Homo sapiens: one gene and its partners. The protein of the gene in region 3 purifies or fractionates together with the protein of the main gene of each other region. This does not show direct contact. Each region holds a gene or a part of one and is shown on either strand. Other genes may lie near its edges.

Evidence for each region.
Region 1: the proteins of CUEDC1 (region 3) and WWP1 purify together in Homo sapiens (co-immunoprecipitation; 2 studies listed by BioGRID and IntAct, with this or other methods). This does not show direct contact.
Region 2: the proteins of CUEDC1 (region 3) and RBPJ purify together in Homo sapiens (affinity purification with mass spectrometry; one large-scale study listed by BioGRID and IntAct). This does not show direct contact.
Region 4: the proteins of CUEDC1 (region 3) and MAB21L3 purify together in Homo sapiens (co-immunoprecipitation; one large-scale study listed by IntAct). This does not show direct contact.
Region 5: the proteins of CUEDC1 (region 3) and PPP4R3B purify together in Homo sapiens (affinity purification with mass spectrometry; one large-scale study listed by BioGRID and IntAct). This does not show direct contact.
Region 6: the proteins of CUEDC1 (region 3) and MIB1 purify together in Homo sapiens (co-immunoprecipitation; one large-scale study listed by IntAct). This does not show direct contact.
Region 7: the proteins of CUEDC1 (region 3) and HFE purify together in Homo sapiens (co-immunoprecipitation; one large-scale study listed by IntAct). This does not show direct contact.

The regions. Positions count from the first base shown.
Region 1 is NC_000008.11:86,408,547-86,412,046, reverse strand, and holds part of WWP1 (NEDD4-like E3 ubiquitin-protein ligase WWP1), read right to left. Parts: intron 510-3,500; coding exon 173-509; intron 1-172. UniProt on the Homo sapiens protein: E3 ubiquitin-protein ligase which accepts ubiquitin from an E2 ubiquitin-conjugating enzyme in the form of a thioester and then directly transfers the ubiquitin to targeted substrates.
Region 2 is NC_000004.12:26,415,014-26,418,513, forward strand, and holds part of RBPJ (recombining binding protein suppressor of hairless), read left to right. Parts: intron 1-461; coding exon 462-627; intron 628-3,500. UniProt on the Homo sapiens protein: Transcriptional regulator that plays a central role in Notch signaling, a signaling pathway involved in cell-cell communication that regulates a broad spectrum of cell-fate determinations.
Region 3 is NC_000017.11:57,871,913-57,875,412, forward strand, and holds part of CUEDC1 (CUE domain-containing protein 1), read right to left. Parts: intron 1,806-3,500; coding exon 1,679-1,805; intron 944-1,678; coding exon 751-943; intron 1-750.
Region 4 is NC_000001.11:116,131,899-116,135,398, reverse strand, and holds part of MAB21L3 (protein mab-21-like 3), read right to left. Parts: intron 2,268-3,500; coding exon 2,034-2,267; 3' UTR 1-2,033.
Region 5 is NC_000002.12:55,607,623-55,611,122, forward strand, and holds part of PPP4R3B (serine/threonine-protein phosphatase 4 regulatory subunit 3B), read right to left. Parts: intron 1-3,500. UniProt on the Homo sapiens protein: Regulatory subunit of serine/threonine-protein phosphatase 4 (PP4). May regulate the activity of PPP4C at centrosomal microtubule organizing centers.
Region 6 is NC_000018.10:21,817,292-21,820,791, reverse strand, and holds part of MIB1 (E3 ubiquitin-protein ligase MIB1), read right to left. Parts: intron 3,169-3,500; exon of another isoform or gene 2,964-3,168; intron 1,298-2,963; coding exon 1,146-1,297; intron 1-1,145. UniProt on the Homo sapiens protein: E3 ubiquitin-protein ligase that mediates ubiquitination of Delta receptors, which act as ligands of Notch proteins.
Region 7 is NC_000006.12:26,093,929-26,097,428, reverse strand, and holds part of HFE (hereditary hemochromatosis protein isoform 1 precursor), read right to left. Parts: intron 3,244-3,500; coding exon 3,203-3,243; 3' UTR 3,026-3,202; coding exon of another isoform or gene 3,018-3,025; 3' UTR 1-3,017. UniProt on the Homo sapiens protein: Binds to transferrin receptor (TFR) and reduces its affinity for iron-loaded transferrin.

The DNA of each region.
Region 1 (3,500 bases), on a different chromosome or scaffold from region 3:
TTAGTTTCAAAAAGTACTTGTTTTGTAGCAAGTAAATAAATAGTATGATTCAGATCCCAACTTAGATTTCAAAGTTCTGAACAATGAAAACATTTTATGCACACATTCAATAATCGTATGTTAACAGAGTTGCTACTTAAATGCAAGTCAGACATTAAAAAGCTTAACATACCCTGATGGCAAGGTTTCTGTGTTGGCATTCCCAGACTGCTGCCGTACAGGATCCATACACCCATCTGGCTGTCTTGATTTGGCTGCTTCAAAAGCAGAACTACTTCTAGAATTAGAGGTGTCAGGCTCTAATATACTTCTAGCTTCAGATTCCAATTCTGCACTGGTAGAAGGAATACATTCATTGTTTTCTGAGGAAGTCAGTATTTCTTGAACTGGAGGATCTTCAACAGTAGTACTAGTGCAATTTGGAGACAAGGCATTTTCTTCAGACACTACTGGAGTACCCGTGACAGACGCATTATCAGTTGGTGCAAATGAGGATGATTCTCCATTAACTGAGAAGGGAAAATTAATAAAATCATCTATCAAGTAATGATAAAGCAATCAATTACCTAATCAATTGACTACACTTATTCAGAGCCTAATCCAGACTAAGCAACTACAATCCATTCTCCAAACAGCAGACAAAGTAATATTTTCAAAATATGTAACATAAAATAAAATGGAGATTTTATTTTTGTTGCTCAAAATTTCAGGGATGAATATGTAAATGATAAAAATTTAAGTATGTATAATAATAACAACCTTAAGGAGAGAGGAACCAGCATTAAGATAACCAGTGTTTTCCCTCCAAATCATCAATTCTGAGAGGAAGTCTGTATGGGCCATCTAAACTCTGAAAAATGATCCCTTTCAATCGCCCTTCCCTTGTGTAAGTGGTAGCTAACATCAAACGAACTGTTTTGCCAATAGTAGGAACTGTATGATGGCATCAGTTCTTAAGATAGTACTATAGGGGTTGCAAGAACCCATTCTACACTTTTTCAAGAAATAACCCAGTACTGCAATCCAGTGACACAGTTTTCCTAATTTTCATTTTAAGTGTGATTGATCTAGTTCGACTACGTGTCACTATAAAAATGAGTCAAATTAAAACTGTAAGGGTGAATAGATTACAGAACAAAACCTACTGGAAGACCATATATCAAAGTTCTAATGGAAATGGCAGAGGGAGACATAATCACAAATTTTAGGAGAATTAATGACAAAAAGAAAACACTCAGATTAAATGCTACTGGACATGGCCAAAGAAGTACCTAAAGATGTAAGAAAGAATGGTAACAAAAGAGCTTAGAATTCATTCCAGATACAGAAAAAAAAAAAAAAAGTAAGTAGAAGAAAATGAATTTTGGTCAAAAGACCCAAAAAAAAGATCAGAATTTCCTAATGCACCTGATAAGACTCCAGAACTTACTGAAAATATAGTATCTAAGTCCTCATCCTAGACTTACTGAATCTCTAGGGGAAATCTCTAGGGAAGAACCTGGGGATCTGCATTTTTAACAAATGCATATGATTTTTTTACTCAGGAAAGCTGGAGAAACCATGAAATATACCTTTCCAAGTGTTATAAAGAAAACATGTTTAATATAAATAACATTAGAAATACCACGTACAATTTCATATCAATGAGTTTGAAATTAGCTAAACTAACTCAAGGGAAAGAAAAAAAGACAAATCAGAGCAGCAATGGAAAAGGTGATGAAAGTTCTAATATCATCCCTCCTAAAGGCTCCAGGCTCAGAAAGGTTTTTGAGAAAATTCTATGAAGCCTTTATTGGATAGATCATTCTTATGTTATTTAAGGTGTTATAACACATTAGGGGAGAAAAAGTGAAAAGGAGTGTCCTAACTTATTCTGGGAAGGTAATGTAAACTTTCAAAGCTGAAACTGAACAACAACAGAACAAGAAGACTATAGACTAACATCATGTATAAATTCAAGGATGATTTGATATTAGGAAACTACATTAGAAAATCTACTGTTAGCAGATTAAAGGATAAACGTCATATGATTATTTTCAAAACAAACCAAAAGCATTCAAGAAAATCTTGGTAAAATGCCTGATAAGAAGAATCATGAAAAATTAAGAAGTAATCTAGATTATCTATCACAAACCTACAGTCATTAATATACAATAATTGTAAAACATTTTAAGAACTTTTTTTTTTGAGAAGGTGTCTCGCTCTGTGGCCCAGACTGGAGTGCAGTGGCACAATCACAGCTCACTGCAACCTCCACCTCCCGGGTTCAAACGGTTCTCCTTCCTCAGCCCCCCAGTAGCCGGGATTACAGGCACCCGCCACCACGCCTGGTTAGTTTTCCTATTTTTTGGTAGAGATGGGCTTTCACCTTGTTGGCCAGGCCAGTCTTGAACTCCTGACCTCAAATGATCCACCCAACTTGGCCTCCCAAAGTTCTGGGATTACAGGCATGAGCCACTGTGCCCAGCCTATTGTAAGAACTTCTATTAAGATCAAGAATAAAGTAAAATCAGGGCTGGGCACAGTGGCTCACGCCTGTAATCCCAGCACTTTGGGAGGCCGAGGCGGGTGGATCACGAGGTCAGGAGTTTGAGACCACCCTGACCAACACGGTGAAACCCTGTCTCTACCAAAAAATAGGAAAATTAGCTGGGTGTGGTGGTTGTGTGCCTGTAATCCCAGCTACTCAGGAGGCTGAGGCAGAAGTATTGCTTGAATCCGGGAGGTAGAGGTTGCAGTGAGCCAGGATCACGCCACTGTACTCCAACCTGGGCAAAAGAGCAAGACTCCGTCTGAAGAAAAAAAAAAAAAAAAAAAAAAGAAAGAAAAAGAAAAAGAATAAATTAAAATCAGCAACAAAACAAGGAAGATCACAATTACCAAGCCAATTCAGTATTGATTATATTTGACAATCCATTAAGAAAAGTCATAACAACATTGGAAAGAATATGGTAAAACTCATTTGTAGTGAAAATGACAAATAGATTATTTATTTAGAATACACAAGAAAATTTTTTTAAAAACCCCATTAGAACCAATTAATTGGAGCTAAAACATTTCAGCAAAATGAACAGACACAAGATCAACAACAAGATTACTTCAAGACCTATCCGAAGAAAAAAAATTTTTTTTTTTTTGAGACAGAGTCTTGCTCTGTCACCCAGGTTGGAGTGCAGTAGCGCGATCTCAGCTCACTGAAACCTCAGCACCCCAGGTTCAAGCAATTCTCCTGCCCCAGCCTCCCAAGTAGCAGGGATTATAGGCATGCGTCACCACACCCGGCTAAATTTTTTTGCATTTTTAGGATTTCATTATGTTGCCCAGGCTGGACTCGAACTCCTGACCTCAAGTGATTCCCCAGCCTGGGCCTCCCAAAATGCTGGGATTACAGGCGTAAGCCACTGCACAACCAGCGTGAAGAAAACACTTTAAAAAACATTACTAAAAAGAATGAATACAGACATAAAATATCTCTCAATGGGAAGATTCAGTATTGTTAA
Region 2 (3,500 bases), on a different chromosome or scaffold from region 3:
CCAGGTTAATTACCACATTAAGTTAAATGCAGTATCCATAATAGTAATGTCACTCATTAATGATTGTGTCATTTTGAATAGGCCTTAATTAGTAATTACAGATTTTTGTGGTGGTTTATCGTGTTTTGTAATATGTTAGAGTACACTGGATTTGCTGAACTCTGGTAATTTAGAACTCTGAGCCATACAAAGAGAAGTTCTGTACTCTAAAAAGTATTTAATCTAACTGTATGCATAACTCCAATATTTTGCCTGAACAGATTTAGTCATTGTGGAAGTCCCGATTTCTGTCCTGTGGGCATGATTATTTGCATTACAAAAGGCTTCACCAAAATTTTTCATTGGGGAATAGGTGCATTTCAATATGATTTTGTATTCATAATGTTCAAGGAAAGGAAATGCTTTATTGAATCTAATTGATTTTTGCTTCTTGTTTTTTTTTTTCCCCTATTATTCTTCAGGTTTTTTTGCCCACCTCCTTGTGTATATCTTATGGGCAGTGGATGGAAGAAAAAAAAAGAACAAATGGAACGCGATGGTTGTTCTGAACAAGAGTCTCAACCGTGTGCATTTATTGGGATAGGAAATAGTGACCAAGAAATGCAGCAGCTAAACTTGGAAGGAAAGGTAAATCAAGACTGCTAGTTCACCAGAAAGGGGCACCATGGTACCAGAATGTAGTTTTCATATTCATTTTTGTGGTGGAGATTTTTTTCTTTAATAACTATTGGTAACAATTTCTTGAATATATAAACTAGGACCAAAAAACATGCCTCTCATAGCTTTGGTCTAGTCACTCATGAAGCTTACGCTGCTGACATTGGAAGGTGGCATGCAGTAAGCTTCCCCAGCTTGCAAGCAGTTTTAGCAGACTATAAATCAGATTTCTATTGGAAGCCAGTAATAAATTTAGGAGGCTGATTGCTCATCTTCTGTTTGACAGAGGTTTATCAACAAAAATACATTGTTCAGTAATGTTTTACTCTGCTATTTTAATCTTAGTTTTATACTAGACACGATGATATATACATTGTGGAAAGCATTTATCTGGGTTATAACGATCATAAACGTTTACTTGACATCAGAGTGAAGCAGAGTGATACTGTAGACAAGAACAGCCACAGTTGGCTTTACTCAAATTTTAGTGCGTGGCAGGGGTTCTTCAATTAATTTTCTAGAGAAAACAATCTATCAGCTAGTTTTACTGATTATATTGTATGAATTTAGAAAGCAGTCAATCTAGATCTTTTTTTTTCTTCCCCCGGGACAGGGTTTTTACTCTGTCACCCATGCAGAAATGCAATAGTGCAATCTTGGCTGACTGCAACCTCCACCTCACAAGTAGCGGGACCATAGGTGTGTGTCACTATGTCCAGCTAACTTTTTTGTATTTTTTTGTAGAGATGGGGTTTCGCCATGTTACCTAGGCTGGTCTTGAACTCCTGAGCTCAAGCAATCCATCCACCTCAGCCTCCCAAAGTGCTGGGATTACGGGTGTGTGCCACCGTGTCCAGCCAATCTATACTTTTAGTATTGAAAGATAGTTTTTTATTCACTTAGAATTTAGCTATGGTTTTATTTTTCCTTGCTACTGTACTTTGGAAAATGGTTAGTTCTGATCTCAATGACTAAACATCTTCTAAAATAGCGCATAAACAGCTGTTTCATTATTTGATACATCCTTGTTGAATATTTTAGTGTTTGCTATGTTGTAGTTGGCACTAGGTATATGGGTTGGGAGTAGTGTTGGTGGAGGTGAGCTAGGGGATTTGTACTCTCAAATTGAATTTTAGTGATTTTACAGATAGTACTACAGGTCTTAATGTCAACCTCCTTCAAATTTAGCTGTTTGTATGTCATTTATATCTTTATAGTTTTTGTAAGTAAGATTTGTTGACTATGTATTTTAAATTAGATTTGGGATAATACTTATTACAATAAAGATTGTTTCATCTTAAACCACTAAAACTATTTCTAAATTATGATCCCTGAGCTAAAGTAACGAATATATTTAAGTGGTGGGTTGATCTAATAGATCTTAAGTCTTGTCTCATCTGTTTTCTTGTTACCTAGGAAGTCTCAGAGTTATATGTCTCCAGGCTTCACATGTAGACATTCAGTACTATGAATGAGTGGATCAGATAGGTAGTGAGAAGCCAGGGATTCTAGCTACCTGTGTGTATAACTGTTTAATCCTACTTCATTGCTCATTTTAACCAGTTCCAGCTTCCAGTAATTTTAAATGAGGTGATACCAAATAAACCAACCAGTAGTATCACTGCTTGCCTTTCGCAGCATTGTGGCTTAGTAGTGCCACATCCTAATTTTGTACCTTTAGGGGCTGCCTCAACATGGAGATCTTTCTGCTGTTTTTCATTATATCTTTCTTCAACTTCCACTAGTATACCCTTTCCCCAAGGCCTAGAAACTGGCAGAAGAGGAATAGAATACCTGAGAGCTTGAGCATTTAACTAGTATTTAAAATACCTAGTAATAGGTTAGTACAATGTCTGTAAGCCAAAATTATATGTTAATATTTAATTTTAAGGAAAAATTCTATTAGGGAAGTTTATGTAAAGCAAGACTGGTGAGAGTTAGTAGAAGGCATCCCAGGCAGAAAAAAAAACAATATAATCATGTGCTTAGAGCATAAAGGTATAAGAACATGGTTTTGACCAAGGTAGGCAAAGATGTCCTGAGCAGCGGATTCTGAGCTTCAGTGAGAGGCACTTTGCTCTTGTCTGCCTCACTTAAACTCCATTCGTGTAAGGAAATAGTCTGTTCATTGAGTGGTACAATTAGTTATTGAGAAATATGGGATATTCATTTTGCAATTTTTGGTGTTTATACTTATTTTAAATATTCACTGCAACAAAATTCTAGTATATCTAGCCCTTTAAATTTATGGTCATGACATTTGGCTGTATGTAGGTAATATGTTGGATCTTAGATTTTGTGTAATGTTTTTAATTTGTTAAAAAAATTTACATTTTTTATAGTCACAGCTAGGTAAGCTACGCAACAAGGATGACTTAGTTAACACTCTTGTGTTTTTCTTATTTTTAAACATCATATACTCTTGGTAACATTTTGTTTCTATAATTTAAACATTTCTGCAGTATCACTTTGCAGCATTAGATTTGGTATTTCTTCTTTCTTTCAGGGAAATGTCTTTTATTGCCTAAAGATCTTGTTTTCAAAGAGTATTTCTAGAGAGATGATTATATGCCATTTTCTCTTCTAGAATTCCGTTAGCTAATTTAACCTTTTGCAATAGCAAGGCAAATGTAATTTTAGTTTTATTTGCTTATTTTCTATGAGTCAGTGACTTTTTCCTTCTTTTCTTAATGGAATTTGAGTAGTTTGTGGTCAGTGGCCTTATAGTTTTTTAAAACTAATAGTTCCCATAAAATTATCTTGATTATGATTTTTGTGGATTCAAACTACTCATTGTAATTAGGGATATATTTCCTTTCTTTCCAAGGAGATATATGTGTGTT
Region 3 (3,500 bases):
AGACTATGTCTCAAAAAATAAAAAATAAACGGAAAAGCCTTGAGGCTTCTAGCACCTTTGCTGCAGAGCTGGGGCTAACCTTGGGCCTCAGCCCAGCCTTCTCCCTCCACAACTTGCTCCTCCCCCACCAACACACCATCAGTTACACACACAAGCTCTCACGCTGTGGCCGTCACAGGGACAGAGCTCCACAGCCCTCTCGTCTCCTCTACCCCAAACGCACTCCCACCCTGCAGGGGAAAGGCAGCCAGGCTAGGGAGCAGGGTCTCCAACCCAGAGACAACCCAAATACCTGCAAAGTTCCAGAGCCCCTGCTCTAAAGTCTTCCACTCAAGAGCCTCCCCCGCCCTGGCCTTCATGAACCCAGTCGTTCTGTTTCCGGAGCTCCAGACACATCACGCCTGCCTTGGGGCTGGGGCTCTGTGAGGAGGGGCAGTGCTCTTCTCCCTGCTGCCTTGTGCCAAGGCCAGTGCCTGGCACAGAGCAGGTGTGCAAAGGGAAGAAGGCCTAAGAGTGCACATCCTTCTTCCTCTGAGTCCCGAGGGAGAAAGGGGTGGGCTAGTGACCCAGGTCCCCATAGGCAGAATTCTGAGGCTCCCATGGGATAACTTGGTGGGAGTCATGCCTCAATAGGACAGAAAGCACCTGGCCCCCTCAGCCCCCAGCTCAGTGTTTTCCTGAGCCCCAAGGCTAAAGCCAGCATCACCTCCCTTCTTCAGCCAGGGAGAAGTGGCTGCAGGCGCTGCCCACCTCTCTCCAGAGCGAGGAGGAAGTCGCGGTTCCGTTGCAGCTCCTTCATGAACTCCTCGTTCTGCAGGAAAAGCGCGATCCTCTCGTCCTCCAGGTACTGCTTCCAGCGGCTCTCCTGGTCTCCGGGCCCTGGCCCAGCCATGGCAGGTGGACATCCCTCTCCACTCCCAGGCTTGGGGCCCCCAGCGTTACCCTGAGGAGGGAAGCGAGCATGTTGAATGTGTACACACAAGGGTACATGTTGCACAAACGTCCACATCCCTCTGGTTGCACACATGCCCTGTCCAACATCCTCCAGCCCTCACCTGAGGCTCACACCTCCTAATGGAACCTGGTTGCGAGCCAAAATCCAACGGACAGGTCAGAGCCATTGCTGCAGGGGACACAGCAGTAGCCTAAAAACTATTTTTCCCCCACGCCACAGACCACCTCATACCTTCATCTACAACCTGAACAGTCCTGAAAACAAATCTGCAGACTGTGGAACAGCCTATACGTCAATTCCCAAACTCAACCCTCTCCCTGCACCAGCAGCCTCAGGGTGGACCTGCCCCGCTGTGGGGCACCTTGGGGCATGCCAACATCTAGCAAGAAGCAGCCTCTGGCCCTTTCCCAAGGGAGGAAGGGGGGTGCTCTGGCCCTCCACCATTGGCCACCCCATGCCCGCCTCTCTCCAGCCTGAGGTGACTGCTGCAGCAGACAGCCTCCTTAGGCTGTCACCTTCCCTGGATAGAACAGGAAACCTCCAGGCCCAGGCAGGAAGTGAGGCTTTCAGTTCAGCATTCCTGCCCTACGAACCCAGGGCAACAGAAATAGCTCAGCCTGGGTTTAAACATCAGGAAGTAAAACTGGCTGGCACAAATTGTGTGGGCAAAGAGAGATGCTGGACAAGCAGGTGGGAGTGGAAGGCGGGGGCGGCCCCTGTTACCTGTATGCTGTCCAGCTGCTGGGGCAGGATGCGGAGAAAGTCATCCGGAAGGTTGCCCAGCAGTGGTGGGTTCCAGTTCCGATAGCGTCTCTGGCTTGTAGGGGCTCCAGAGCCCAGCGCGTCGATACTAGGGGATGGCAGGTGACAGGGAAGAGGAAGTCATTAAGCCCAACCCCAGGTCTCCTGGCCCCATCACACCAGGTCCTCAGGCAGGTCGGATCCTGCTCAGAGATTCCCATGGCCTCCACTGCCTCCAGAACAAAGGCCCGTCACTCTGTCTCATCACTGGAGATGTCTCCACCAGCCTCAGCGAACTCCCCAGCCATTCATGCTCTCCAGTCACTCAGTGCCCTTCCAGGTCTCTGGACCTACAGAGCTGTCTGTCCACGGTGCACATGTGGAACTCTGTGGATTTAGCCATAGATGTTTACAAATGTCCCCTAAAGACAGCAGGGATCGCATCCTTTCATGCTTCTATCCTAGCACCTACACAGTGCCAGGCTCATGGTGCTGAGTGACAGGTATGGTCCAAAGGAACAGACACATAAGCCACCAACAGCACAGCCTGCTGCATGCTGGTTTGCTGAGGAAGGGGCATATGGGGACGCCAGGATCCCTACAGAGGGTAAAGCAGATCTGAGCTCCAGTTCTGGCTCAACCACCAGCCGGCAGGGTAGTCTTAGGTGGGCCCCTGTTCCCTCTAGGGCTCGGTTTCCTTATCTAGAAACTGCTGCCTCCCTGCCCAGGTGCTGGGGAGCCCCTCAGGAGGCCGTGTCCTGAGCAATGTTCTGAAAACGTGCGTGGAGATGTGAGTGTGGAAGGGATCTCGCTCTCAGGGTGCTCTGGGGCCGCTCTTTCCAGGCCCGTTGTGTGTGTGGCAGGAGCTCTGTGCCATGGCAGAGCCAACAGCTGGGCAAGGCAGTAGAGGAAGAGGGGGTGGCACACACCCTCCCTGACCCCCAGGCTCCCGCCCTACCGCCCTGGGCCTGAGGGCAGCTCGGAGCCCGGCCAGGAGGTCCCCACAGCTCCATGGCAGCCTGCAGCGTGGCAACCGCAGGACACGTGTTCCGCTGAATCAGGAAAACGGCACACTGAGAAGGCAGCCGAGGGCCGGGCGGTGGGGGCTGCTCTAGCTCTCGGGCCTGGCTTTGATTTGGTCTTCAGCTCTAGGAATCCCGCCCGCCCCCTCACTGGAGGGGAGCTTTTCCGGGCTGCCGCTGACTATGGAAATAACTTCCTTTCCTTTTCTATTTCGGGCGGGTGGCCGGCGGCGGGGGCGAGGGGAAGGGGCGGGGGCGGCAGCAGAAGGGATAACCAGCTGCTAAGTGCCTGGTGGGAGCTCAGCTCTTGCAGACTGGAGCCAAGGGAACCCCAGCACGCCTCGTCCACCCTCTCCCTGCACAGACACAGGGGGAGAGGGAATGGTCTGGAGAGCAGCTTGCATCACAACCCGGGACTCCCATTCCTAGGCCAAATTTTTTTCTACATCACTGCCACCTTCTGTCACTGTTGGAGGCTTCATTTTTCTCCAAAGGCCAGAGATGGGGAGAGAGGAAGCCTCATCTCTAAGGGACTCGCAGACCACCCCAGGCTACAGCAGGGAGGGACCCTCGCCAGGGGTATTACCAGTTCTTGAGGTCTCAGGGTCTTCATCTGGGACATGGGTGCCCACCCCCAATTTAACCACACCTCGGAGCCACCCAGGAAAGCAGTGGAGGGAGAACCTCAGAGGTGCACCTGGACCCCTCTAGCCATGAAGACTCCAAGTGGAGAAGGGCACAAGGTGGAGGAGGCCCCTGTTCTCAGCTGAGTTTCCTTGCTG
Region 4 (3,500 bases), on a different chromosome or scaffold from region 3:
TGAGGAATTTATCCATTTCTTCTAGATTTTCTAGTTTATTTGCGTAGAGGAGTTTGTAGTATTCTCTGATGGTAGTTTGTATTTCTGTGGGATCGGTGGTGATATCCCCTTTATCATTTTTTATTGCATCTATTTGATTCTTCTCTCTTTTTTTCTTTATTAGTCTTGCTAGCAGTCTATCAATTTTGTTGATCCTTTCAAAAAACCAGCTCCTGGATCTATTAATTTTTTGAAGGGTTTTTTGTGTCTCTATTTCCTTCAGTTCTGCTCTGATTTTAGTTATTTCTTGCCTTCTGCTAGCTTTTGAATGTGTTTGCTCTTGCTTTTCTAGTTCTTTTAATTGTGATGTTAGGGTGTCAATTTTGGATCTTTCCTGCCGTTTACAGTACTTTTGAAAAGTAATCATTTTCATTTTCAAATGTGAATTTTCATGAAAACAAAATCAGTAGTTCATGCTTTAGAAATTTATCTTTGGTATAGACATTTGGGCAAAAACATTCAAAAGTAATAAAGGAGCCCCTTGAGTTGAGAAGCATTACATAAACGCCAGAAAAAAACCATTGATCTCACCGAGAACTCCTAGAATTCCTGATCGGTTGTGCCACACAGAATATGTTGCCTTGTGGGCCTCTGTGAAATTCCAAATGGGTGGCTCAAGAGCACTCAGTGCCCAGCTCCTGTGTGAGTCCCCAGACCTTCTTCATGCAGTTACCAGAACAATTGTTTAAAATGCAGTCAGATCGTGATACTCTTCTGCTTCTGGAGAGGCCAAATGTCACACCTTTGATCTTAGAATAAAATACTGATTCCTTCCTGGCTTTACAAGGCCAGGTGCTCTGACTCATGCCAGCCCCACCATGCCTGCCTTTGGTCACTTTTCCTTCCCCTTCAGCTATTTGCATTTTCATCCTTCGGGGACCTTTCTGTGGACTCTACTTCAACATTCTGTTTATTTCCTTTGAAGCACTTGCTTCCATCTGTAATAACTGTGCGTGTTTATCTGTCGTTCATTTCTTGTCTCCACCATTAGGTGGCATCCCCAGGGGGAGGTCCTCATCCACTTTGCTCTTTGCTGTGTTCCCGGTGCCTAATGAGCATTATTTGTCAATGAGTGAGTGAGTGAATGAAGTGAGCAAAGGAACACACTGAGCAGTGACAGACACCTAAGGTCACTCCATGCAGATCATAGTACTAGGTTATTTACATAAATATATAAGGAAGTTCCATCCATGGCCCATGGCATGGGAAGCAAAGAGAGGGCTATGGTTGGGATCAGGCCAAGAGTTGTACTTTCATCTTTGACTTACACTTATCATCAAAACCATTCCCCTCCCTGCTTAGAGAATACCAGCGAAGCAGACAGAACATCAGGAGCCACTGACCCACATGCTAAGGAAGCTGGAGGGCAGCAAGGAAGCACAGGCTCACTAACTCATCAGGTGCAATTTTGCGTCAGTGCTGTGGGTACCGATCCAGGATGCAAACACCAGCTACTCAACCAACCAGGAACACTTTGTGTTGATCCAATGCCTTCCCCTTGAAAAGGCGCCAGCACAGTTTCATAGGCACACAGCCCTGCTCAGAGGTAGGCACGTTAACATTCCCATTTTACAAATGGCAGGAGAATGTGCCCATGATCAGTGGGCTGGGCACAGTATTGGCCAGCAGGCTCATGTCCAGACTTCCAGGGGTTCTGTCTCCATCTTCACTGTGAGACGATCACAGCCTGAACAAGGGAAACTAAGTTCAGAACTGTCACCAGTTCCAAATCTGTGCCTGGGGAAGCCTGATGAGAGCTGTCTCCAGGAGAATTAGCTAGGGCAGAAATGCTTGCTGGGCTCCAGGGAGGCCTGGGCCAGACATCCTGGGGCACAGTTTTCCCCCTGCTGAAGTGTTTCTGGTTTGATGTAATTTCCGCTGCCATTCGTGGCCTTTCTCCTAGGCAGGATCCTGGCACCTGACTGAGGAACCATCCAAAGAACAATGTTAAGCCAGAATAAAATGTCCAAGAGCCTCCCAGGCCGGGGCAACCATCAGGGCGGGCCGATCTGGGGGTTCTTCAGGAAGGTGGCCAGCTTTTGGGCCACAGTGTCCAGTTCAGTCGGGTTGGTGCACTGAAAGAGGTTGCTGTTCCGGACGAAATAGTGTTTCAGGAAGTGCTGGCTCACGCACTTGTGCAGTTTCCTCACCAGGCGCAGAAATGCTTTGCTGAAGACCTGCCAGTCTTTAAAGTGGGGATATTTCTCGCAGGTCCAAAAGAGCACAGTCTGTGGAAGGGAGAAGTGCTGTCAGACATTGTTTCGGGCAATTGAGGAGGATAGCTTGGAAACAATTATTGAGCTTATGTGGCCTTGGAAGGAGGGAGAAAAGAGTTGCCTGGGCAGACTGGATCTACCATGAATTCACAATCCCCAACTTCAGGTGGGCCTTCAGTTTACCAGCTGGTCTCCCGCACCTCTTCCCTAATCTATTCCCTCACTCTCCTCCAACATTTCCAATGTTCACTAATCCAGGCAATGTCTTTGCCTCCTACTTTACGGGGAAAATGGAACCCCTCATCCTCCCAAACCAGACAGATCTTGCCTACTGCGGCACCCACCTCTCTTCCTCCCTGCTTCTGCCTCTTCTGCCTGTGGGGCTGATCCCTCCACAGGGCCCTGGATCCCATCTTCCAGGAACTGTATATGACTGATTACCCTCTTCCTCAACTGCTTTTCACAAGTTGAGAGCTCTCCTGCAACCCCAACCCCACATCTGCCTCCTGCCCTCACTCTTCCCTCTGCAAATCCAGGCTTCTCTGGAGAGTCGGCTCTATTATTTGTGGTCATTTCCTCTCCTCCCATTTCTTGCCTCAGTCTGCTCCAATATGGATTCTTCTCTCATTAATCCTCAAAGGCTCCTCTCGTCAAGGCCCAGTGATCTCCACTTTTCTAAATCTAATAGGCCTTTGTCAGCCTGCACCTTACCTGACCTTTCAGCAGACCTGGTTCTCTCGCCCACACCCTCCCTCCTGAGCCATCCTTCACTTGACTTCCAAGCAATCTGCTCTCTGGGTTTTTTCTCCTAGCATTACAGCGCCTCCCTGGCAGGCTTTTACTCCTTGGCCTGCCTTTGAGAAGTGGAGTTTCTGGAGGCTCAATTCTAGGCCCTCTTCTCCTCTCAGTCTACATTCATTCCTCAGCTCTATGTTGCCTCCACCACAGCAGCTCTAATTCTCACTACATATGAATGACTTGCAAATTTGTGTCTCCAGCCCAGACTTCTCCTCTGACCTGCTTATCGTGTATCTCTTGAGTATCTGAAAGTTATCTCAGTCCCAACATGCCCAAACTGAACCCCTGCTCTTCCTGCACAAACCTGATCTGCCTCCAGAGTTGCTTAACTAGCTAGTTGTGCAACACGAAAACCTAGGAGTCGCCCTTCTCCCTTACCGTCCCCAGTCAAGTCCTGTAATCCTCTTGTCTAAGTATTTCTCGAGTCTACCCATTTACCTTCACCTC
Region 5 (3,500 bases), on a different chromosome or scaffold from region 3:
GGAGCTCTCCAAACCCAGTCCTAATGGGCTTTTATGGAGGCTTCATTAAACAGGTATAATTAAGTAAATCACTGGCGACTGGTGATTAATAAACCCTCAGCCCCTCTCCCCTTCTGGAGGATGGCGGATGGGGTTCAAAGCCGCAATCTTCTAACCATGCCTTGGTCCTTCTGGTGACTAGATCTATAGATAGTACTATCTACAGTCAGGTCAATGGATATTACTAACAGAATGAAATCCAAAACCCTTTATCCAGCCATCCAATGCCTTTTCCATTTTGGCTACAATCAATGTTTGGTCCAGGTAAACATTGAAAGAGAAGGTCCAGGTAAACAACGAAATCTGAATTAAGGTAACTGAGCACCTTTTCATCATCACTTTCTTTTGCTCTTCTTTTTTTTGATACAGAGTCTCACTCTGTTGCCCAGGTTGGAATGCAGTGGTGCAATCTTGGCTCACTGCAACCTCCACCTCTGGGTTCAAGTGATTCTCCTGCCTCAGCCTCCTGAGTAGCTGGGATTACAGGCGTGTGCCACCACACCGGATTAATTTTTGTATTTTTAGTAGAGACAGGGTTTCACCATGTTGGCCAGGCTGGTCTTGAACCCCCGACCTCAGGTGATCTGCCAGCCTTGGGCTCCCAAAGTGCTGGGATTACAGGTGGGAGCCACTGCACCCAGCCCCTCATTCTTAACTTTAAATTCTTTTCTCTGATCTTGTCAAAATACCAGAAACTAAATGGGGTTTATATTTAGAGTTCTTTTCCAATGCTGAGGACTGACCCTGGGAAACAGTCAACGGTTACTGATCTTTCTTCTTCCTGATTACCAATAACTGATCCATCACATGCCCTGTCAATTCTACCTTCAATAAAGATCACAAAATCCATCCATCTCTGTCCATCTCTATCACCTCAATCCAATCCAACATTATCTTTTGCTTGGACTATGCAGCAATCTCCCAATGAGTTTCCCACTTATTGCTTCTCTTCAATTCCACAGATTGATACTATTAAGTATTTTGGATCATGTCATCACTTTGCATAAACTCTTCAAAAGCTTACTTTAAAAATCCCAACTTGGCTGGATATGGAGGCTCATGCCTGTAATCCCAGCACTTTTGGAGCCCAAAGAGGGAGAATTGTTAAGCGCAGGAGTTTGAAACCAGCCTGGGCATCATAGTGAGACCTCATCTCTACTAAACATTAAAAAAATTAGCCAGGTATGGTGGTATGCGCCTGCAGTCCCAGCTACTCAGAAGGCTGAGGTGGGAGGATCGCACCTAGGAGGTCAAGGCTGCGTGAGACTTAATCATGCCACCGTGCTTTTGGCTGGGAGACAGTCTCATCTCAAAACCACCGCCCTGCCTCCAAAAAAATTCCAAACGAAAAGATAGTGACCAGCCAGAAGCAGCACTCGATGAGGTATTTCTGGATGAATGAATATATGTGGTCAGATCAACAAGACTCAGTCTTGAGCTCTGTTCTTTTCTCAATTTATAGCTATTACCTCAAAGGAGGTTACCTTGTAGCTAAAAATTCATAATTCATCTGATTTTTTTTTTTAAAAGGCTGGAGTGCAGTTGGCTATTCACAGGTGTGATCATCACGAACTATAGCCTCAAACTCCTGGTCTCAAGTGATCCTCCTGCCTCAGCCCCGAAAAGCTGGGACTACTACTGGCATGCTAGGCCTTTTATGATTCTTAAATTAGAATCTCCTGCCGGAAAGTCTCACCCTATCTCTATTCCCAGATGTTCATTTTAAGACCTTTTCATGGGCTGGGTGTGACGACTCATGTCTGTATTCCCAGCACTTTGGAAGGCCAAGATAGGTGGGCTGCTTGAGCTCAGGAGTTCAAGACCAGCCTGAGCAACATGGCATAATCCCATATCTACAAAAAATTAGCCAGGCATGGTGTGCACACCTACAGTCCCAGCTACTCAGGAGGCTGAGGTGGGAGCCTGAGCGCAGGAAGTTAAAGCTGCAGTAAGCCATGATCACGCCACTGCACTCCAGCCTCGGCAACAAAGCAAGACTGTGTCTCAAAAAAAAAAAAAACAAAAAAAACAAAAAAACTCTTTCCATTTATTTTACTGTATGTAACTTCAAAGCCCGGATGGAAAAGAAAAAAAAAGCAAAGCACAAAACAGTATACAGTATGCTACCAGTTATACCAATAAAAGGGAAAAAATACATACAATTGTATGCATATTTGCTTACATATGCATACCTCCAGCAAGATATATAAGAAACTGGTGATGTCAGTGGCCTCTAGCAAGGGAAACTGTACGGACAGAATCTGGCGTGGGAAAGAGACTTCAATAAATACCTTTTGAATTTTTAACTGGGCTAATATATTACACACTAAAAAAAATTTTTTTTAATAAGCCTCAAACCAAAAGATTAATGTAAACCTGCTTAACTTCCCACTTTCTGGAAAGAACCATCACCTTCCTGGCCAGACTCAAAAACACTATCAGTGACCTTTGATTCCTTCTCTTTAATATTTAATCATTTACTAAATTTTCCAGCACTTTCTGGAAAATATACTGGAGCTCTGTTCCTTCAAGTCCATTTACCGTGGTGGAATAGACTTTCATTTTTTGTATCTGAATTATTGCAAAAGGTCTTGCTACTCAAAGATCTTCTGCTCCACCCTATCCCTCCTCCCCAATTTATTATTCATGACATTGCCACACTCATTTCTTTAAACACAGTATCACTTTAGGCCCCTACTCAAGAACCTGTAATGTCCCCTTCTGAACCTGTGTATTATCATATTTGGGATTGGTGGTAGGAGGGGGAGAAACCACTGCTACAAATAGGCTTAATACCTTTTGTAGCAAGTGTATTTCCTTTCCTATCACAGTTCCTTCCACTACCACCACCAAGAATGAAGTTTTTCTTAATGATTCCAGCTTATATTAACCTCTTCCTTAATTTTCTACTGCTCTAAGTCTGTGGAAAATGCAAGTTTACTTTTTATATTTTGTGTTGGCACATACCTGCTGTATAATCTCAGTCAAGAATCTTACCCTTTCTGTACCTTTGTTGCCTCATGTGTGAAATGCTTTCACGGGCTTTCAGTGAAGACTGTGGTAAAACACTGTTATAAGCTATCTTATTATCATTCTTTATCTGTTTCATCTGTTACATCCTGCCTCCAAATAAAACTGCAATGAGGATTTTCTTAAACCCAATTAACACACAATTGTGTTAAATAGGTACACATTCTTATGACTCTGGTTTTTTTTTTTTTTTTGAGAGAGTCTTCCTCTATCGCCCAGGCTGGAGTGCGGTAGCACAGTAACAGCTCACTGAAGCACTGACCTCCTGGGCTCAAGCAATTCTCCCACCTCAGATTCCCAAGCAGCTGGGACTACAGGTGTGTGTCACCATGCCCAGCTAATTTATATTTTTTGCAGTGAGAGTCTCAGTATGTTGCCCAGGCTGGTCTTGAACTCCTGGACTAAAGTGATCCTCCTGCCTCAGCCTCCCA
Region 6 (3,500 bases), on a different chromosome or scaffold from region 3:
CTTCACGTGTAAAATGAGGATATTAACACCTGCCCCAAAAAGCTGTTGAAAGGATTAAGTGAGATGATGCATGTGAAGCACTTTGCAGAGGCTGGCATGTGGAAAGTGCTATCATAATCTTCTGTTTGAAGGGCAGGGAAATATAATACTACTGTCTTCTTCACAATGCCAAAATCTGAAGTGTTCAAATATTTGCAATTTGGAAAAAAAATCAAGATGTGATCTAAAATATGATCATTCATTTTGTCCTACAATATATACCCACTGTTACAGTTACCAATAAGCAGTAGCAATAAAATCCTTTTGTTTCCTGTGGTCACCCTCTAGTGGTGATCCTAAGAAGCTAAAGGAAACATGATATAAAAATACAATAAGGAACCAAAGAATAAGTGTTCAGAATAGATAAAATTATCAAAATAAAAATCAAAGTGAAGATTTTTCTTAGTCCAGGTATACAGGTTTGACTCAAACATAAACAGAAGACATCCAATGCAGAATTTCCTAAAATGCTTAGGGTAAAGTTGTTCCAAAAAGTGAGTTAATGGAAATCTCTAAATTAAGCAAAGCTAAGCATTTTCCCATTCTGTGGGACACCGCAGATCCTTCATAAAGAATGTGATTCTCCAAAAGGAGTCTTTCTCAAATGTCAACCAGCAAATACTTTTTTCAGTAGAATACTATTGCTGTAACAATGGATGAGGGGATAGCTATACTAGAAGTTTATATAACTAATTACATTATTAATAAGGAATTAGGTAACTTAGTATTTATTTAGTCTTAAGTTTTAAAAAATAATTATCGTGCAAATGGCAACATGAAATTAGAGGACACCCAGATAATTATTTTGAAGAAACATAAATCTCAAAATAAAATGCATTTTAATTAAATCTTTAGAAAGAAACTAGTATTCCTGATATTTTACAACCACATTTAATATAAACTTAAATAATCATTTCATAATATTTGTATTAGATTAACAACCAAATAATCATCATATAAAACTAAAGGCATAATATTCACAAAACTTTAAAATGATTTAAAATACTAAAATAGCCAAAATTATTTCTTCATCAGTATCAGAAAAAGAGAATCAACAGTAGGAAAATATTTTTGAATTGCACCTAAAATAGTAAGGGGTGACATACCTGGGATTTCCCCTTAGTGCAGCATGATGCAGAGCATTAAATCCATTATTGTTTGTGATGGTAACATCTGCTCCAGCTTCCAAAAGAACTGCTAGGATATCATCACGTTTCTTACTTATTGCATCATGAAGAGGGGTATCACCTTCAGAATCCTTTAAGTTTAAAGAAATTTTCATTAGTTCTTCAATTAATTATCCCATCTAATAGTAATACTTACACCAAATGCTAAGCAAACAGAAGCAGAGACCACATCCAACAAATACCAATAAAAGAGCACTTTCTGTGATAACTACAAAAATATAGGCAAAGGCTGGGCATGCTGGCTCATGTCTGTAACCCTAGCACTTTGGGAGGCTGAGGCGGGAGGATCAGCAGAGGCCAGGAGTTCAACACCAACCTGGGCAACATATAGAGACCTTGTCCCTACAAAAAATTTTAAAAATTAGCCGGGCACGGCGGTGTGCACCTATAGTCCTAGGTACTCAGGAGGCTGAGGCAGAAGAATGGCTTGAGCCCAGGAGTTCAAGGCTCCAGTGAGCTATGATCATGCCACTGCACTCCAGCCAGGGTGACAGAGCGAGACTCTATCTCCAAAAATATAAAAAACAAAAATACAGGCAAGAAACACTGGCCACATTATAGTAAGGAAAGACATACTCAAATCTAGTTGGAAAACAAAATAAGCATGCTGGAATTTTTTTTTCTTTTTTTTGAGACCAAGTTTCGCTCTTTCACTCAGGCTGGAGTACAATAGCGCGATCTCAGCTCACTGCAACCTCCACTTTCCGGTTTCAAGCGATTCTCCTGCCTCAGCCTCCCAAGTAACTGGGATTACAGGCACCCACCACCATGCCCAGCTAATTTTTGTATTTTTAGTAGAGACGGGGTTTCACCACGTTGGCCAGGCTGGTCTCAGACTCCTGACCTCGTGATCTGCCCACCTCAGCCTCCCACAGTGCTGGGATTACAGGCGTGAGCCACCTTGCCCGGCAAAGTTCTTTTTTTGTAGAGATGGGGGTCTCAGTATGTTGCCCATGCTGGTCTTGAACTCCTGTGCTCAAGTGATCCTCCCACATGAGCCTCTCAAGGTGTTGGGATTACAGGCATAAGCCACCACTCCTGGCACATGCTGAAGCTTTACAAAGCAAAAAGAAAAGAAAAGAAGTAGCCTCAAATATAACTAATGACAAAAACCAGTGAAGTGATAAAGCTGCCCCCCAAATTTTATAAGTTTAAAATGGCCTTAATTGTCATACCCTGAAATTCCATACCAAACCTACACCATAACAATGAATTGAAAGTCGGTGGCTTTCAAACTTGGCTGCTCATTAGAACCTGCTGGGGAGATCTTTTAAAATCTGTTGTACAGAGGAAAAAAAAGAGAAAAAAAAATCTGATGTCCAGGCTGTTCACCATACTAAATCTCTAGAGGTGAGAGTGAGGCATGAGTAATTTTTCAAAGCTCCACAGATGAACATCTTGTGCAGTCACAGGTGAGAAACATTAATCTAAGCGTTTTCAAAGGGCAGCAAAGTGGCTAGTTAGCCAAAGGTAAAACAATTGTAAATTAAAATTTAGCAATCTCAGTCTACCATTTTTTCAAGCTGACTACTTTTTACATTAATCAATTGACTTAGCAGTAAGTTTTTATTCATTAGCAGTCATGTACAGACATGAATAATTTAAATTTCATTCATTTCATAGTTGAACAGATGCTATTCTCAGTAAAGTCATATACAACCTGGCCTACAGCATATACTACAGTTGCCAAATTCAGTTTGCCACTTGTTTTTTGTTTGTTTTATTCTTTTTTACTAGACATATTTCCTGCATGGTTTGTCTCCCCAGTCACTGTCCACAGGATTCTGAGAAGCTACAGGAATATGAAAGTGCAAACACCAGACCCAGCTTCATCTCCAACACTGAGGAAAGGGACTGTACATCATGGGGCAGAGCCCTATGCTCCCCTAAGCCATGTGGACAAAGCCTAGAAAAAATGATATCCCAGGATATTACACATTGGAGCCACCTGTTTTTGTAAATTAAGTTTTATTGGAACACAGCCACACCCATTCATTTATGTATTATCTATGGCTGCTTTCATTCTGCAATGAGAGTTAGATAGTTGTGGCAAAAGCCAATAAGCCACTATTATCTGTGCCCAATATAGAAAATGTTTGCTAATCCCAGGAATATATTCATCCACCTACATAAAGAATTCCTGCTAGGCATGGTGGCTCACACCGGTAATCCCAGGACTTTGGGAGGTGGGAGCAGGAAGATTGCTTGAGACCAGAAGTTTGAGACCAACCTGGGCATTTCTACAAAAAATTAGCCAGGCATGGCAGCTCACAC
Region 7 (3,500 bases), on a different chromosome or scaffold from region 3:
TTGCCAGAGGTGAATAAGAATTTAAAATGCAGGTCTTTGATTTTTCAAATGTAGTTGACCTTAAGAATTTATGAATAAAGCCAGAAAAATTAAGCTTAAAAAACACCGAAAGAAAATGAGGACTTAAAATTTCTATTAAAAAAATTAACAGGCCACAGTTGCTGATGTTTAGTAAATGTGTTAGTGAAATGTGTTACTGTGAAGACTGGGGTGTTTCTTGAAATCTCAGCCCAGGTGAAATAAAACCAATATAAAACAAATGCTTACCTAATAAATTAATTGTAACATATTCCTTATGAGGTAGAAGAGTAAGTGAAGCCTTATAGCAGTCTGCTTTCAGTATAGTAAGATATTAAGAGAGAAATAATTTGTCATATGCTTTCAGAATGGTTTGCTGGTAAAATAACCAATGTCTTACAACTTAGACGACAATGTCCCTAGAGTGAAGAAACACGATTAATTCGGCTACCACAGTTGAATGAAAATATTCCGTAAGACAAAATGTAAAGAAATTAGAAGCAAAATAAATGTCTCCAAAATGACAAAGCGATTAAGTATATACACAAGATGAACAAGAACTTCAATAAAATCATGCAGTATACAATACAATATACATTTATTAAAGTATATGCATTTTTAATGCAACAATAATACTAACAGGTAATAGACAAGTTGTTAATAGTTTTTCACTGGCTAATTAAATAACAGCTTTAATTGTATTCATTTTATAGCTTTTCTACAATGAGCGTAAATCACATTTACTTTTTTCTACATAACTTTTCTAACCACAAAAAAAGAAAATGGTTTAAAAGAAGAGATGAGATATCTTTGCTAAAATTTAATGCCTAAAGAAGAAACTTCTGAGCTGTATATGGTATCCTGAAGCACCTGCCCTTCAAGACAGAATGCTTGTACCACATTTATGCAGCCAAGTGCATGTAGTAACATAAAGTAAACACATGCCATCTGGATATATATATTAAGACTCTTTTGACGGCTGGGCAGGGTGGCTCACACCTGTAATCTCAGCACTTTGGGAGGCCGAGGCAGGCGGATCACGAGGTCAGGAGAGTTCGAGACCAGCCTGGCCAACATGGTGAAACCCTGTCTCTACTAAAAATACAAAAATTAGCCGGGCATGGTGGTGCACGCCTGTAATCCCAGCTACTTGGGAGGCTGAGACAGGAGAATCGCTTGAACCTGGGAGGCAGAGGTTACAGTGAGCCGAGATCATGCCATTGCACTCCAGCCTGGGCAATAGAGTCTCAAAAAAAAAAAAAAGACTCTTTTGAACATGGTGAACTGATTTCCCAGAATCTAGCAATTCCTGAATGTCCTGGTTAGATTTTTTTTTTAATGTGCACCGGAACCCCAGTGGCTCCATGGAAGGACCTGGGCATCCTCTAAGCCACTTGGTGGCTTCCATTATACCATCTCAAAATGAGAGAGCTTACTCCACTTCATTGAGGGAAATACCACCAGAGTTCTGACTCCAGAGGCACTGGCCTAGGGAGGACACCGTGTGTGAAGCCCAGCAGGGCCACTAGCTGTCCCCACCAATTACAGTCCTTGCGTAGGGTCCAAAGAAATGAATGCCAAAGAGAGCAACAGAGGAGCAAGGGAGTCACATTCCAGGACCTTCCTTCAGGGACTTTTAAAGGAAACATGACAGCTGAGGATCAGTTGGTTGTTTTCTGCTGTTCCCCTTCATGTGATTCAAGCTCACTCAGAAGAAACACAATGAGACAAGAGAAGAGCCATCTCCTTCCTTCTCTATTTATTCTAGGCATCTAAACTACTGAATGTAGTGGTGTCTGAGATGTATCAAACGGTCAGATTGACTGAGTTTGAAACCTGTTTCTATCACTGACAAACTATGAGATACTCTATACTTCACTTTCTTTTTTTTTTCATTTTTTTATTTTTATTTTTATTTTTTTGAGATGGAGTCTCACTCTGTCACCTAGGCTGGAGTGCAGTGGCGCAAACTCGGCTCACTGCAAGCTCTGCCTCCTGGGTTCATGCCATTCTCCTGCCTCAGCCTTCCGAGTAGCTGGGACTACAGGCGTCTGCCACCACGCCCAGCTAATTTTTTGTATTTTTATTAGAGATGGGGTTTCACCATGTTAGCCAGGATGGTCTCGATCTCCTGACCTCGTGATCCACCCGCTTTGGCCTCCCAAAGTGCTGGGATTACAGGCGTGAGCCACCGTGCCCGGCCTACTTCACTTTCTTCATTTAAAAAAGAAATGGGGATAATAGTACCTATCTCATAGAATTATTGTAAGAAGTGCATGCAGTAATGCATGTAAGTAGGTGCTCAGAAGAGTCGGACACGAAGTAAGTGCTTTTATCATCCTTATCATAATTTTCATTATCAGAACAAGGAGAGACCAGGTAGAAAATTATTGTGATTCTTCAGGTCTGGAATACTAGAGTAGCATCCCAAATGAAGGCACCATTAAACTTTGCAAATCTGTATGACACCTTCATGCCAATTAGAAAAAACACCTCTTCACAACCCCTTTCAAGATATTTGCCTCCTACCTGCTAAAAACACCCATCATACTACCCACAGATAGCCATGATGCTTTTTCTGGGACAGGTGCCTCTTCCATTCGTGCAGTGTACAGCCTTCATAGCTGTGCAACTCACATCACAATCAGATGGAAGAATCCCCAAGGCTTGGTGACAGATGAGTTACTGGGTAACACAGAGAGAGGATTCAAAGGAAAAGTTGAACGGGTCCAGAAAATGCATAGATACATGTGTAAAAATCTGGTAAGGTTATGACTAGCCACGTCCCAGGGTTCAAAGCTTTTCTCAGATGTTAAAATGAATCATGTAAGTCCCCCAAATTTAAGGAGTCCTCTTCCAAAAATAGGAAATGAAATGACATAGGTGTATGTCTCTGAGGTGACGGAGGAAATGAAGGAAGCCTCTAGATGCAGCTTGAGGTTCATGAGAGACAGTTCCAGGGGAGAGGTCACAGCTAGGGATCACCGGCATGCAGGAACTCAGAAACCTAAATGGGGAAATCTTTTTGAGGAAATGAACAGAGAAGGCTAAAATCAAGGAGTTCGTCAGGCAATTTCTATGTTTAGGTTCAACTCTCTCCTGAAACATGAAGAGCTCATAAATGCACTCCCTCTTTGAGTCTCTAGTTTTGTCTCCTTCCCACAGTGAGTCTGCAGGCTGCGTGTCACTCACGTTCAGCTAAGACGTAGTGCCCCATGGCTCCTCCTGTGGAGACAAGAGACCCAGGAAAGAGGCATCACAAACCTAGGCACCATCTTGCCTCTTCTCTCTTCCTTATTTTCCTCATTCACCCATCTCAATTTAGACCTGGGCACTATTGGATTTCAAGAACCATTATCTCTCATCTGGAAATGCTTATTGGCTTTCTAACTGGTCTCCTCACCTCTCATCTAACTTCTTAACAACACATTCACCATATAAGGGAGATCGTGGTCCTCCTTTCTTAGGATCCTTCAATGACA